2 separate regions of the Homo sapiens genome follow, and region 1 is linked to region 2. The links come from fine-mapping of genetic effects on gene expression. A gene starts in region 2. The other region holds a variant in brackets. All regions are shown on one strand. Distances are between the middles of the regions.

The links. PIP is the estimated chance that this variant, and not a neighbour inherited with it, causes the effect.
Region 1: its variant is fine-mapped to the expression of VAC14 in whole blood (INTERVAL, PIP above 0.99).

What each region holds. Positions count from the first base shown.
Region 1 is chr16:70,690,892-70,695,891 of GRCh38, forward strand. It overlaps VAC14 (VAC14 component of PIKFYVE complex), which reads right to left. Exons shown (of 19, transcript NM_018052.5): 17 at 4,653-4,732; 18 at 1,930-2,080. Among named protein-coding and RNA genes, the nearest start is that of MTSS2, 7.3 kb to the left of the region's middle. RefSeq lists enhancers at 1,295-2,122, 2,123-2,948, 2,949-3,774, 3,775-4,600, 4,601-5,000. The variant C/A (reference allele first, on the strand shown) is at 2,001.
Region 2 is chr16:70,798,935-70,804,443 of GRCh38, forward strand. VAC14 (VAC14 component of PIKFYVE complex) reads right to left here and starts at 2,224. Exons shown (of 19, transcript NM_018052.5): 1 at 1,863-2,224. The coding sequence starts at 1,966. HYDIN (HYDIN axonemal central pair apparatus protein) reads right to left here. Exons shown (of 86, transcript NM_001270974.2): 86 at 3,150-5,509. RefSeq lists enhancers at 1,910-2,532, 2,200-2,259 and a silencer at 1,930-2,119.

The sequences.
Region 1 (5,000 bases), 110 kb before region 2:
CTAGGGGGTGTCTCACACACCCATTTAGTCCAAATGTGCATTTACTGACCAAGTAACCAAGAACCCAGAGAGGGCACTGGGCTTGCTGGAGGTCACACAACAAATCCATGGCAGAGCTCACACCAGATCCTACTCTAGGCCTGCAAAGCATCCACTGACCCTCAGAATCTTCTACCCAGAGGCCTCAACCCCTTGGCTCAAGACTTCCCTGACTGACCGTGGGAGATTCTGAGGAAAGCCTCATTTTCCCAGCTTCCCTCTGCAAACTTGTTCTACCCTGGTTTGAGGAGTCTGACTGCTCTGAGCCTCTGCTCCCCTCCCAAGACGAGGAGATCAGCACTCGGAGACCCGGGAGAGGCTGGGCTGGCTCCCTGGCCAGGAGGACTCCCAGGAAGGCAGGCTGGTTCCCACAGGGAGACTGGAGGTCACAGGGAAGCAGCCCTTCCTGCCTCCTCCCTGCTTCCGGCTGCACCTTCCCCTCCTGGGTGCCTGCCAGGTTGACCCTAACACTATGGGGCGTTGAAGGGCCAAGGCAAAGGCTGGGCCAGCAAGGCCCGGTGTGGCTTCTAGGCCTCTCTCGGAGTCTCTCGGGAGCTGACAGCACTCCGGCCCCAGGAACCCACACATGCGCCCCCGCTCCATGGCTGACCCTGCTCCCCTGGGGACACTGCATCAGGTGCTGTCTTCTGGGGACCACCTGGCAGCACCCTGAGCAGCTGGGGTGGCAACCGGCTCAAGGCCTAGTCCTGCCACTGCAGGGCACTGCCTTCTGGGGAAATGGGGCAGGGAAGGCACGAGCCGGTCTTGGTTGGGGCCACACTTTCTAGGGGTTCAGCCTCTCCAGCTGGCCTGGGGCAGAGAGCCTATCAGGTGCCCCACACTCAGCCATCCGAGGGCCAGTCTGGGTGGGAGGGGCAGTGGGAGCCGATGCCAGCGGTGTGGAGGGCACAGGGCCTCCGGGCAGGCCTGTCTCAAGGCTGCCTGTGTCCATCGCAAAGGCGAGCACCCGAGGCCCTTTGCTGGAGCAAGGCGCCAGGCCTGCTGAGTGGCTCTAACAGCCTGGGAGGGAATTCTAGACACACAGGGCATCTGATGCAAGCTGGGCGCGCTCCATTCAGCGTAAATCTTCTCAGTGGCTCTGCTGGTTTCCATGGCGACCTGACAAGTGAAATTTTCCATCTCGGATGCCAAATGCCTGTGGATGAGGCAAAGCCTCCAAGGGTTACCAAATATAGATGCAGCCCTACAGGCTCTGGGGTAGGGGCCAGCCGTGGGTTCAGGGTGGGAGCCGGCACTCCTCTGACCAGAGGCTGCCAAGCTGGGCCTCTTGGTGGAGGGGTGCCTAGGACCTGTTCCTTCCATGGGCAGGACCTGAGCAGGGGAGCCTTGAGTGTACCCCTGCCTCCCACCCCACCCCGGAAGTGGCTGAGAAGGTCCTAGCAATGATGGGGTCTCCCAGTGACCCAGGGTTGAGCCTCTGCCACAGACAGGGTGGGGAGGGGCTATGTGAGGCCTGGGAGGTGCCCAGCACAGACAGCCACTGGGGCCCCCATCTCTAAGCTGGGGCAGGAACTCCTCCCCCTGCCCGGTGTTTCTCTCCAGGGTCCTCTGTCTGGGTAACTCCAGATGCCCTCAGAGTTTTTAGATTTTGCATAGCCTCACTGAGCTGGACCCTGATTGCCTGGAAGTGTTGCTACTCCCGGCCACCGTGTGAGGGCTCCCAGAATCCCTTGCTCGGTGCTCTGATGTGGACACAAGAGGCCAAGGGGCAAGTGGCTGCGGGGGGGATGGTGGTCACAGTGACAAAAGGGGTGGGATGCTGAAGTGAGGGAGGCCTCAGCAGCCCCTGGCAAGGCCCTTCCTCACCAGGCTCCTCTGGGCCTGTCCCTGCTCAGGGGGCGGGGGCAGCAGTCCCCAGCCGGCACTCACTCGGTCTGCAGCAGCTCAGGGTTGGGCACGCACTGGAGCCGGTGCGAGAGCAGCTGGAAGGCGCTGCTCTG[C/A]GGCAGGAGCATGAGCAGGCCGTAGAGGGCCTTGATCAGGTAGGGGTTGTTCTTCACGTCCAGCAGCTGCAGGCGCAGATCTGGGGTAGGCAGAGGGCAGGGGTCAGGGACCTGGCACTGCTCTGGGACACGCCCAGCCCACACTGCCTGCCTCCGACTGGCCAGGACCACCTGGGACTTGGTGCCATGGCACCCACAGCCCAAGGACCCAGCTGTGTGGACCCAGCCAGGTGGCTGTGGCTTCCAGCGAGTCAGGGGCTCCTTCACAGCCAGTCGCGCTGCCCCCACCTCCCCCAGGAGTGTCCTAGCCGTTTCCATGATCTCATCTTCCTTTCCACCTGCCCACCTGCCTGTCTGATCTTTCCAACAGTCACCTCAGCCCCACAACCCCGAGACACGCTGTGGGGCCTGGTCTGTTTCCCGCCCCCCGCTCAGCTGCCTCCCTGGTGATACGAGGGCTCGGGGCCTGTAGTGTAACATATTCTCCAGTTGGCTCCACACGTGCCAGCACGGGAGAGCTATAAATAGGGTGTGCTGGAGAGAAAGACGGTAGATTAGGACAGCTTTAAGAGAGGGCAGGATGGAAAAACGCCTTTGTGTGTAGCGAGACACACACCAAAGCCCCGGAGCGTCTGGGAGGTGCTTCTGGGGCTCCGGCTCACATGCCAGCCCTGCCACCACCCTGGCGGGGGAAAGAGATGCACCCGGGGGGCTGCCCAGCACTCATTCCAGCCCAAGCTGCAGCACGGACCCCGCTGGTGGCTGGCTGTACCACAAGGCAGTCCCAGCTTCCCCAAGGCGCACAGGGGAGGTGGGATTGGAAACGGGCTCACTTTTCTTCTGCGAGCCTCTCCAGGAGAATCACTGGCTTCTACTTCCTTGTGTCCCTAGGCCCAGTCCAGGCATTGTTTGTGGAGGATATGCCATGTGCTTTGGGAGAGGGACTATGTCACCCCTGGAGCGGCCACACAGGGGGTCCCGCTGACAAAGGGAACCTGAGCACCAGGCCTTAGGGCCAGGGTGTTGGTGCGCAGGGAGCAGAGGAATGGAGGCCTGCTGGCGCCCTCCAGAAGAGACCCCCACCACCACTGTCCTAGGCCTGGCTGCCCAGCAGAAGCGCGAGCCTGTTTCCAGTCCTTTCTTCCCTTTGGGCCTTTGGGAAGCAGGCACTGCCGGTGGCCACACCAGCCACCTCTAGGATCCAGGCGACTCAGGGCTGGGACGGTGTTGGGCGAGACCAGGGTGTGTCTCTCCTGTTACCCTGCCCCAGCAAAGCCCTGGGCTTGAGGAGAAGGTGCTTGGAGTTCCTCCAGGGTCAGGGAGGGAGGGCAGTCATCCTAGGGATGCTTCTGGAATGCCAAGAATGTACAACTGGAGAGATGAGTCAGGACAGACCAGCAGCAGGAGCAGGGTCTTTTTAGGATCTGACCTCAGGCGGCCGTGTGGGTGCCTGTGTCCCTGGGAGGCCCTCGGGGAAGTGTCACGCTGGGCACACCTGGGACAGGCTTTAGCGCACTCTGCGGAGAGCAGGGTCTCCCCCCTGCTCTTCTGTCTCCAGGGCATCAGTTCCTACGGCACCCTGCTGCTTGATGAGGCTGCCCTTTGAAGGGGGCTCAGGAGGGGATGGGAACGGGTGTTCTTCAGCCCCTGCATTCAATTCAGGCTCCAGGGCTCAGGCTGATGGGCTTAGGCCGGGCGGGTCAGAGACGCTGCCAGAGAGTGGGAGAGGCCGGGTGGCCAGCTTGGCAGGGAAGGTGGCCACCAGCAGAGTGGCCTCCTGGCTTCTCTGCACATTATAAGCACATAAGCGTCATTCAAAGTGTGTATGTTGAGGTGCTGAGAGCTGTGCTCGCCCCAGCCAGCTGCCACTTTTGCACATTCAGCCTGGGTGTTACTAAGCAGGCAGCTCCTGCCCACTGGCTCCCAGCAAATGCCAACTCTTCTTTCAGAGAGGTACAGGCATGGCTCTTGGGCCAACAGGAGCACCTGCAGAGGGACTCGGGACCCACAACTTCAGAGAGCCAGAGCAGAGGCAGCAGACCCGGAGGGGTGGCTGGGGACAGCCCAGGGGCCTGGTATCAGCCTTCAAGGGGGTTCTGCTGTCAGCGCTGGCTCATGTCCAGGAGACTCACTGTGAGGGATACAGGCAGGATCCAGGTTCTGATGCCACGTGCCCCAGCCCTGCTCTGGCTGGCCTTGCAGGCCTATCATCCCAGTCTTTTTTTTTTTTTTTTTTCTGAGGCAGGGTCTTGCTCTGTCACCCAGGCTGGAGTGCAGTGGTACAGTCACAGATCACTGTAGTCTCAACCTCCTGGGCTCAAGTGATCCTCCTACCTCAGCCTTCTGAGTAGTGGTGACTATAGGCATGCACTCTCATGCCTGGCTAATTTTTAAAAAATTTTGTGCAGATGAGATCTCACTATGGTGCCCAGGCTGGTCTCGAACTCCTGCCGTTAAGAGATGCTCCAGCCTCAGCCTCCAAAGTGCTGGGATTATAAGTCTCACATTCTCAACATTCCAGAAGCTTCCCTGGGGTGACTGCTCTTCCTCCCTCCCCAGCCAAAAGAGACCAACTGGAGCTTGACTTCACCCACCCCACTCCAGGGCAGCCTTGGACTCATGGCGCGAGGTGTGGTGGGAGGTGGTTCTTACATGTGAAGATGGGGCACTCAATCAGCTGCACCAGCTTGTCCACCTCTGCGAGGAAGTCCACGGTGACCTCCAGGTCCCCACTGGGTGTGCAGTCAAGGAAAGTCTGTCTGCTGGGCCAGCACAGCCGCAGCTCACAGCACCACACGCCCTCCCCCCCTGCACCTGGCTTCCTGTGCACAGAGCCTGGTTGTGGTGAAGCAGGATTTGGCGCACAAAGGACACCAGGCTCTTCCCTGTTCCTCGCCTTTCTGTCCTAAATGGAACTCCCCTGTTCAGGAGTTCCAGGTTCCACTCTAGCAGCTGTCTCCTCTGCACCCTCCCGGGCTGGGAGAGGCTCTTATCACAGCG
Region 2 (5,509 bases):
TTAAGGAGTTCACAGTCAAGGCACTGCTGAGTTTCTCTAAATTCCACAAATCAAGGGCAATGTCCAATACAAAATGAACTCGATCAAAGACAAAACCCTTACAGAACTGTGTGCAGAGTGAGAACAGATACACAGGTTGCGCTGGAAGCAACAATAATGTTGAGATGAATACCTCTCTCTTCAAGGACTCAACAGACGACTCAAGCTACAATAAAACCGGATATTCCTGAGAAGCAGAGTGGGTGAGGGACAAAACTAGGTGTCAAGGCAACTTCAAAGCCAACAAAACCCCATGGACACGGAACCATGCCTATATATCATTTCTGGGTCCCTCTATTCAGTATGGCAATGTGCAATAAGACTTGCTAGCATTCGTGAGAGTCAGGCATAAACAAAAAGCTATATAAAAGGAGCAGTCAAGAAAGTGGTGTCTGATGAGAGAAGCAGCTAGATGGTTGTGGACATACTGAGTATGAGAGCTGAATGGAGGCAGGGTGGGGGATTTCTTATCAAGGTCCGAACCCTTTAGTTTAGGAGGAAACTAAAATCCAAAGCAACATTTGATTTGGATTGCAAGCAGCAGTTGTCAACCGGGGCAATTTTGCTCCTTCAGGGGACATTTAGCAATGTCTGAAGACATTTTTGATTGTTACAACGGATGGAGTGCTACTGGCATCCAGTGGGAAGAGGTCAGAGACGCTGTTAAAAATCCTGCAAGGCACAGGACAGCCCACTACAACCAAAAATCATCTGCCCCAAAATGTGAATGGTGCAGAGGCTGAGAAACCCTGAGTTAAGGAATTTGCCCCAGGTTAACGAATGAATGTCACACCACGGAATAGATTAGAGCAGTCCAATAGAGCATTCTGCAATGATGGAAACAGTCTATAATCTGTGCTGCCCTATATAGCAGCCAATAGCTACATGTGGCTATTGAACACTTGAAATACGGGTAGTGTGACTGAGAAACTAAAGTTTAATCTTTAATAATTTAAATTTATAATAGCTACGCACGGCCAACGGCTACTCTACTGGACAGAACAGAAATACAATTCACCTTTTCTGACTCGCAGACTGGTATTCTTCCAGTTTCACAGCCTGCTTCTTTCCAATTTTCTGAAATCACTCACTCACTTGACTTTAACACTAAAATGTGACTGGGAAAAAACCCACAAAAGTAAAATAATACTGCAGAAAAAAAAATAAATAAAACATCCCCAGTTAAACTTTCGCTGTTTTGTACATTGGGAAATAAAGTAAAATATCAGATCATTGTTACACATACATGTAACAAGACTGCAGAAGCAAGAAAGGTCAAATTATTTCTACTTCCACTTGCAGGGAAGGGTGTTATAACACAGATAAAACAAAAAACTCTCTGAGCCTTGAGATCACGAGTTTTCCGACCTGATTTCTCTACTTGGTCACTAACAATCTCCTTCACTTCTCAGAAGCTGGGTAAGAAACCAGGCTGGTCAGCATCACCTGCAAATTCTCCGGCTTCTGACTTCTCTCTCACCACAGAGACAACTCTCTGATTTGCTGGTTTGGGTGGCACCGCACCGAAGACTCACCATGTGCCATGCACTGTGCAAAGCACTACCCATACATGATGTCACTTCATTCTCACTGCAGCCCTTTGTGGCACCGGGAGGTTAAAAAGCTGGGACCAAATCACACAGCCAGTCAGGAGTAAAGCAGGGACTCCCAGATATGGCTCCCAATCTGCTCTTAAACACTGCGCTAAGGTAAGGGCCTAAAACCTGGGAAAGTAACCCTGGCTGGGAAGGCGTGAGAAGTCCCCCTGGGGAGCAGAGCAGTCAGGGGCTGCATAGCCAGGGAGGGGTCCTGGCGGCTCTTACTTCTCGATCTCCAGCGCTGCCACCTTCCGCTTTTCGTACAGCTTGTCATTGAGGGCGCGCACGATGTTAGGCGTGAGCGGCGCGAAATCCTTCTCGGGGTTCATGGTGGCAGCTGGGGGAACCTCGCGACTCCTTAGCCCGCGGCTGCCGGGGCCGCGCCGGGGCCAGGGGAGTCTGCGGCTCCGCTCTGCCCCCGGCGCCGGCGCATGGACCACGCCGCTCTAGGCTTGCCTGCCACGCTCCGCCGCCTCGCCCTGGAACCCGGGCCCGGACCCCGCTCCAGCACACCTGACCCTGGCCGCTTAACAACTCCCGCCCGGCACTAGCGGGACTCACGAGACAGCGGCCATGTTACTCGAGTCACATGACTCTACAGCACTTCCGCCTTCCGTCGCGAGGGCCCGCCCCTCTCCAGCCACGCCCCCACCGCAGGCCGCAGGTGGATTGGCCACGCCCTCGGAAGGCTCCACCCACACTGCACACACTATCGCGCTGCGCGCCAGGTAGCTGGAGTGTGGTTTGAGACGTGCTTTAATGGGTGTGTAGCTCACGCCCAACTGATGGCACGTGGTGGGCTTCTGTAGACGTTCGTAAGACCGAATGGGTTCTTGGAGTCTGATTCACTTAACATAATTTATTCAATAGTCACCGAATTCACTAGTTCATTCAGTAGTTGGTCACTTACCAATTTCCTAGATGCAGACGTTTCCCTAACTGCAGTAACACTGTCATCACTTTCACCATATTCTAGCCACTTGTATTATCTATTTAATGTTTTCCTCAAATCAACTCACTTTAAAAAATACCTTAAATCTCTTTTAGCTTTGCTTATGCCCTAAAACCATGAGTTTGAATAGGTATATTTTTTCTAAGACACATCAAAATAAATTCTCAATTAAAAATGGCACTACCTGTCTACCACCTAAGATCTCAGGTACCACCAGTGTCTGTCACTCCACCATTTGGGGGTGTGTTTAACATGCTCTGATGCCTAGGAGGGCTGGTTACAGACAGAGAGAAAGGCCCCAGATCTGCTGAGTGCGGGTCTCTAGATAGGTCCCCTGGAAAGCAGCCCCTTCAGCTGCTTCGGGAATCACATTACATGGTGAGACAGAAATCCCAACTATGTGGCAAAATATTTAAAAGCAATTTATGGCCGGAGTGTGGTAAACATGCAGTTAACAGGGAGGTGCATCAGCCTTTCCTATCATAAGCTTTCAGAGTGAACAGGGACTTAGGACAAGGGCTAGATTACAGTGGAGCTCAAAGAATAACAGTTTCAGAATGCATGGTGATACTTTTCTTTAATGAATGAAAAGTGCATATATAGGCCTTATAACAGTCTTGAAAATGGAGTATTTTCCTCAACAGAAACAGGGACGCAATGAGTAAAGGGCAAAAGTAGGCAGAATTCTAGGATGACCTCCAATATTCCCACCCCTTCGTGTTCATGCCCTGTATTATGCCCTCTTTCAGCGTGAACAAGACTTGTAAATATGATGGGCTATGCATCACTCACATGATTATATTATGTAATATCGCAGAAGAGATTTTGCAGATGTAATTAAGGTCCCTAATCAGCAGACATTGAATTAATAAAAAGAGAGATTAACTTGAGTCGGCCTGACCGAATCAAGTGAGTACTTAAAAGAGATTAGAAGAAATTTGAACTGGAAGAGAGACTCTCCTGTAAGGAGTTTAGTCATATGGCCACAAAGGAATGAATTTTGCCAACACATTGAGGGTCCTTGGAAGCAGATCTTTCCCTAGTTGAGCCTCCTGATGAGGATGCAGCTGGCCAGCACCTTGATTTCAGCCTTGTGGAACCCTGAGCTGAGAATCCAGTTCACACTGGGCTCTCAACCCATGGAAACTGTGAGATAATAAATTTGTGTTGTTTTGCTCTCCTAGTTTTGTGGTAATTTGTTATGCAGCCATAGAAAATGAATACAAAGGCTAATCCAAAACTCGGCAAGTCATGGATATATCATGTCTAGAAAAATCCATAAAAAATGTATTCTCCTATACAGGTGGGGTTTTCATAGTTGTTAAAACCTTTGCTGACACAATCCTATGAATGAAGGTAGGTGCGCTAACAAGTAGTAGTAGTGCTGCCAAGGACATCTCCAAATGTCTTGCAAAGTTTGGTTTTAGGATTTTGATGATGGTTGATGAAAAACACTGAAAAAATGTAAATCAATGGGAATGATTTGGTTCTATTTCTCCAATGTGTGTGCATTTCCACGGGACGCATATCTAATATATTTCATGTTTCTTTTGCTTTTTGGTTTGGCTTTTTCTTAGAGGTGAACTGAATTTCCCAAGGGTAATGATACAGTTTTTAATAATTCAAACAATAAGGAATTTTTTTTTTACCAGAAGTATTCTTTTCTCCTGAAATTATATTCTGGCTCAGGTTGCTAAGTAACCAGTTTTTTATTCAAGGCCCAGACCAATGCCTACCTTTAGGTCAGAAGTTCCTAGAAAGAAGTGGTTCTTTTCTCTAATATCTTGAAAAATGCCAACTAGGTAAGATTATTTATGCATAATTGAGCTAGCAGTGGTGGTAAAAATAAAGCCCAAAGGCTACCCTTGCCTTCCACCCTTGTTCCTCTTCTCTGACCTGTGACCATTCCTGTTGAAACTCTTCTAGACTAGGGGATAACTGATGTGCCTGACTGCATACTAGTCATTATTTCACAGTTACAATTCATCTGCATCTGTGTGATGCTTGGTTGTTATGCTAGAACTTGTAATAGTTCTGTAACAACTATTCATAATAGCTATTACAAGTATGTAAAAGTTATGACATAACTTGTAGCAAGAGGCTGCTGATGACATTGTAAGAAATTGTACCAAAATCTTGAACTGTGCAAAGCAGTTTCTCCAACAGCAATGTAATTGTAGCTGGAGTTTCAGGGCAACAGGGTTTAAGGTATTAGGTAGAGGTCTTGAAATGTAGCAGGCCCTCACCAATGTTACAGTATTGTCACCTCTGACTTGAGGCTCCTAAAGAAGTGGTTAGACTTAGCATGCCACACTCACTGGGGGCCCAGTGTGGAACGAGGCCAGGGAGCCCCATTCCCATGGTATTCTGTGCACAGTGCTCCTTGGAGTTCTGCCACACAGCTACCCTGACATTTTCTGAACATCCCCCAGTTAGAAGTCTCCTGGTCTGCTTTGCTGAGAATGGATTCTCCAATGTAACTTCCACAAGCATGTGTTGGAAGGGTTATTTTCATCAAGCCTGCTGTTAAGCTACTTTGCCATTCCAAATTTGCTAATATAAGACTATTTTGTTATTGTTTGAGGCTAAGGAAGCACGAGAAAAACCTAAAGGGAAGAAATGCACCCAATCTCAAACCAGCCTGGAAGAGGGTTCACACTGGGGCAGGATCTGAGCTTGGCTCTTGGTCCCAGGGAGAAGGAACTTCCTCCTCTCTCAGGGGCTAGGAGGATTTGGACCCTAGACTCAGTGGTGTTATAGGACCAACACGTTTGTGTGCCCACTGTGCAGTAACAGACCAATGCACAGAGACAGTGGGGATGCAGCAGAGAAAGTGATGATCAAAGGTCACTGAGTGATGAGATGGGAGGAGACCCTCAAATCCATCTCCCGGAAGAGTTCTGGACTGGGGTTTTTAAGG